Regions from separate parts of the Homo sapiens genome. Here region 2 is linked to region 1. The links come from fine-mapping of genetic effects on gene expression. Tissue or cell type: whole blood. Region 1 holds a variant in brackets; the other region holds the start of a gene. All regions are shown on one strand. Distances are from middle to middle.

Region 1 (2,689 bases):
AAATATTTTAATAAGCATATTCAGAATGGCAGACAAGGAATGGGAGAAGGGAATTATTTTACAGTGCAAAATTACTATGCATAAATTTAACATCTAATTTGAAATTTTAAATGCCTATTTAAATATTACTTCAAATACATTTTAAAGCTCAACAAACTTGTGTTGAACTGAATTGCAGATCCTGAACTCTATTTGAAAATACATCATGAAACAGAAAATACCCATTCCAAATGAAAATGATAGTGCTTTGTTGGGGGTGGGAATGAGGCGGGGAGACTAAATCACTATTAACAGACTTCTTTTTCCAATGCAATTTGTCAAAAGTTCAAAAGTTCTGAAATGTACTAAATCTTAAGCAAATTAAATTCATGATATTACTAAAACTTTTTAAATAGTGCAATGACTTATCAAGTTATAGTGGCTGCATTAAGAACAAATTATTGTGTGAAATACCTGTATAAACACAAAATACAATTAAATATTTCTTTACAAAAAGCTGAGCATTACGCATAATAGTGGAATGTCTTTCATTAGGTGTATTTTTTAAAGATTAACAAAAGTAACATTTCCTAAAATGTATACATGTGCCATATTTTTGCAAACATGCCTGAGAATGTATTTAAAACATTTCTGTAGTAAGAGTTTGCAAGAACTTCACAAACCTGCAAATAAAATGCATCTTTTTAAAAAGGTGAAAATGGCATCTCCAACACTGCAACAATTCAAAAAGTACAGCATCCCTAATCTTTAAAAACATTTCTACAGACCATCTTTGACAAAGAGCTAGGATACTTTGGATTCATTTAATAAAAAATGATTTAGAAAACAGATTGTGACCATCTGCTTGCTAAAGCTACTGCCATTCTGGATAAATTAAAAGTTTTAAGTAAAACAAAAACAACAAAAAACTCATACTTCTCAACACTTCCACCCAAAACTTTGATTTACTTAGATATGTATGTAACAACAGTGAATGTACATTAAGATGAAGTCAAGTGTTGCAAAGTGGCTTTTAACACTGTTTGGGAAAAAAAGTTGTTCACATTGGTGAAGGGAAGCAGTCCGAACATATGTTAACAGTAATACTTCATGGGGGTAAGGCCTGAATGCTAATTTCTCAGTGCAAACCTTCACTCAATTACATCAGACAGTTGAGCCATTAAAAACAAGACCACAGAAGCTTTATTTTAAAAAGGCATTGGCTCTTGAACTGATGGCTGAAAAATGAACTGGAAGAAGCATTTGGAGTATGCCTGTGTGAGAAAAACAAGAATAATTAATATTTTATAAAAGTTTGGATATAGGTTGGTCTATCAGCTATATAAAACTACATTATTTAACAAGAATTTAGCACTAAAAATAAAATGGCACTTTTACAAGGCTATGCAGATGGATAATCCTATCTGTAATCACACAGAGCAATGATTATTGTGTATCTTATTTTCACTTTGGAAAAGCATTATCAAATCTGAAAAATTGGATTGTAACTAGAAAAGTTTGAAAAGTTT[T/C]CAAACTTCACTTTCTCTTCATAAAATCGATACTGCCTGCCAACAGTTGTTCCTTGTGTGTGCCAATATCTAAGTATCACTTGACCCCCCTCCTCTGTTTATTTAATGCAGAAATGGGAAATTTTATGATGCATATAAAAATAACAGGATTCTGGTCAGCATGATATATTTAAGCACTTAAGCTGACATTAAACTTTTGTCTTGCTTCAAAAATAATTTTGAAAATTATAGCAAATGCAAAACAAACTGCAATCTAAGCATCATGCTTAATTTCAGAATTCTCAAATTACTTGCCCTTAAGTAGAAATTTAAAAAAAAAAAAAAAAAAAAAAATTTTATAATCCTTTATGAATGCTTTAACCACCTGGATAAGAAATATGACTTAATTACTACACAAACACTTAAAAATTCATTAGAAAAACCTTAGCAAAATAAAATGAAAGCTGACAGACTCAGAATAACAATTCCTCTCATAAAAGTTTACCAACTGTACAAGTTAAGAAAATTATACACGCTTTTGTATTAAGAAAGGACAGCTCAGTCAAGACATATGTACTGTAAAAATCTTTCAAAGGCTACAAAGAATCTGGAAAAATACAGAATGTATTTCTTAAGCCCAGATAAGAATATGGAAAGACATCATTGATGTCAACAATTTTACATATACAAACCTGACCTGGTTTATTTTTAAACTTCTATATATAAAAAAATCATGCTAGCATAATTTTCAGGATTCGTAAGGGTTTCCTTAATAAAGATACTCAAACTGTTTGGTGAGAAAAATGTCTGTTTTAAAGACATTTCAAGAAACTCAGAGAAATTGGTATTAAGCAGAAATTTGGACTTGAGTTTCCCATTCATCCATCAAACTAAGCAAAAATTACCTTGTAGTGAAATTTTATGATTAATACATCAAATGAGAAGGTACAGATACATCTTTAGTTCATTCAGATTTACCAAAATTAGTAAATCTGAATGAACTAAAGATATTCAAATGAGAAGGTAGAGATATATCTTTAGTTCATTCAAATTTACTAATTTTTAAAATACCCTTAAAAGAGTCTGACAGCTTTAAAGTAAAAAAATCTGCAAAAGGCAGAATTATGAAACCTCATTTCCTAAAGTTAAGACTCAATTCAAATTTTCAAACTGCTTCAAGGAAATCAACTTTTTAAGGTAAC
Region 2 (2,689 bases), 68 kb before region 1:
ATTATTCAGCCTTAAAAAGGGAGGACATTCTAACATATGCTACAACGTGGCTGAACCTTGAAGACATTACGTTAATGAAGTAAGTTCATCACGAAAGGACAAATACTACATGATTCCACTTATATGAGGTACCTAGAGTAGTCAAATTCACAGAGACAGAAAGTAGAACACTGGTTAACAGCAGAGAGGGAAGGAAGTAGGGAAACAGGGAGTGATTGTTTAAAGGGGAAAGAGTTTCACTTTGGGATGGTGAAAAAGTTCTAAAGATGGATTAGTGATGATGGCTGCAAAACGATGTGAATGCAGTTAATGCCATGCAATTGCATACTCAAAAAGGGTTAAAATGATAAATTTTATACTTTGTATATTTTGCCACAATTTATTTCTTTCTTTAAGATGGTCTTGTGCTGTTGCCCAGGCTGGAGTGCAGTAGTATGATCATAGCTCATTGCAGCCTTGACCTCCTGGGCTCAAGCCATCCTCCCACCTCAGCCTCCTGAGTAGCTGGGACCACAGGCGTGCGCCACCACATCTGGCTAATTTTTTTATTTTCTTGTAGAGAGAGGGTCTCACTTTGTTGCCCAGCATGGTCTCAAACTCCCGGGCTCAGGCATTCCACCTGCTCCCAAAGTGCTGGTATTACAGGTGTGAACCACTATACCTGGTTTACCAAAATATAAAAATAAGAAAAAAAAAAAAAAGAAATTTAAAAAGATACAGACCAAGCACTTAGAAAAATAATTCAAAGTTCTTCTTTCCTAATCTATTAAAGTTCAATACGTAATTTCTTTGCTTAAACCGATCATAATGATTTGCTTCTGTTATACAATAATGACTACCATTTACCGAAAACTAGCTCTTTGCTAGCTACACATCCACAGAGATCAGGTTCAGGGAGGTCATCTAATTGGTCCAAGACACACAATAAGGAGTGAGTGTGTTGGTGGGGGGGGGGGGGGTCGTCATTTCTAGGAATCCTACAATTGGAAATCAAGTCTTTTAGGCTCCAAACACCTTGTGCTTTCCCCAATCCCCAAGCTGCTTATCTTGCTACTTTTTGGGATATGTCAACATTTTTCTTAAAACAAACAAACGAAACTTCTCAATCTGAAAAGTATTGTTTGGTGTTTTCTGGGTTCAGAAAATGTAAGAAGCCTGAGGCATTGCGGAATGAAATTTTCGTTGAGTGTTTACTGTTGATCCACATCTGATACTTTTGAAGGGTTTTTACCCCCTGCAAGAGAGACTAAAAGAGCATTCAGAATTAGTCTAGACGCAGTGTACTGTAACTACTTGGCCGGCCACCTGTAACAGAGGGGAGGAGGGTCTGCACTTAGTTGCGGCAGTTATCCGGAGAATACGGCCTTCCAGCCCCTCTGCCACCAGACTCCCCACGCCCCAGGTACGCGCCCCGCGGAGAGACCCAGCGCGTGCTCGTGCGCAGGCGCAGGGCGACTGTCACCCGGAGTCTGTGGTTTGTCGCCCGGCGCTCTGGTGTCTCGATGTAGTTCCCCTGGCTTCTCCTTATCCGCCTCGGGCAGGGGGGTCGCCACTGCCCCTTCTCCAGGCTCTCTCCAACCCCTGCCCAGGCTAAGCCCGGCGCGGCCCTACTCTCTGACCCCGCGTTGCACAATGCCCGAGCAAAGTCTCCAGGGGTGTGAACCCCGGCGTCCCTGCCCCTGGGCGGGGACAGGCGGCGGCCAAGCGGGGAGTCGAGGCGGCGAGCGCGCAGCTGGCCTAGTCTGCGGTCCCCAACTCCTGGAGTCCCCTGGGAGCTGCCGCTGCAGGCCCCCGAGCCGCTAGGCCCCGCCGCCAGGCCACCGCTGCTGCGGCAGCCATGGCGGAAGTTCATAGACGTCAGCATGCTCGGGTTAAAGGAGAAGCCCCCGCGAAATCCTCCACACTCCGAGATGAGGAGGAGCTGGGGATGGCGTCGGCCGAAACGCTGACCGTGTTTCTGAAGCTGCTGGCCGCCGGCTTTTACGGCGTGAGCTCCTTCCTGATCGTGGTGGTGAATAAGAGCGTGCTCACCAATTACAGGTAGGGCCGAGGCGGCGGCGGCCCAGGCCGCGGAGGAGGAGCGGGCGGCGGCGGCGGCGCGGCGCCGGCTCCCTGGACTTTGACTGCCAAAGTTAAAGCCGAACAAAGTTGGGCGGGAGCTGGGGAGGGCGGGCGGCTGACGCGCGCGGCCCGGGCAGCGGAGCCGGCCTGGCGAGCGGGCCTGTGGCAGGGGTCCGCTCCCTGCGCGGAGCTCCGGCCGGCCCGGCACATTTGGGGCTCGCCTGCCATGCCCTGGGCGCACCGCCCCGAAAACCCTGCCCTTCAGAGAGATGGAGCAAAGTGATTTGCTTGGTGACTTTTGAGCCGTTATGCCTGTCGATCAGGGAGGAGAGCGAGGGAAGCCTCCCTCCTCCGCAGCCTGGACAGGGGGCCGGGGCTTCAGTGTCCCCTGCACCCGCTGACAGCCTCTGGGGACGTACGCATCCTCAACCCAGCAGACAATTATTCCCTTGCTAACACTGGGACCCAGAGGCAGAAGTTGGTTGTTTTTTTTTTTAAGGTGTGTGAAATCGTTGCAGAGATCTGTATCTGCACTGCCTTGAGAAATCCTTTGCAGGCAGCGGACTGAAACTGTAGACTCGGACAAGATGGGACAAGCGGCCGCCCGAGGCTACATCAGCGGGGTGGA

What was found. PIP is the estimated chance that this variant, and not a neighbour inherited with it, causes the effect.
Region 2: it holds the start of SLC35D1, and the variant in region 1 is fine-mapped to the expression of SLC35D1 in whole blood (TOPMed, PIP 0.94).

Annotation. Positions count from the first base shown.
Region 1 is chr1:66,984,967-66,987,655 of GRCh38, reverse strand. MIER1 (MIER1 transcriptional regulator) reads right to left here. Exons shown (of 14, transcript NM_001077700.3): 14 at 1-2,689. It also overlaps a transcript of SLC35D1 not described here. Among named protein-coding and RNA genes, the nearest start is that of MIER1, 61 kb to the right of the region's middle. The variant T/C (reference allele first, on the strand shown) is at 1,509.
Region 2 is chr1:67,053,162-67,055,850 of GRCh38, reverse strand. SLC35D1 (solute carrier family 35 member D1) reads left to right here and starts at 1,703. Exons shown (of 12, transcript NM_015139.3): 1 at 1,703-2,040. The coding sequence starts at 1,838. RefSeq lists silencers at 1,599-1,788, 2,079-2,288.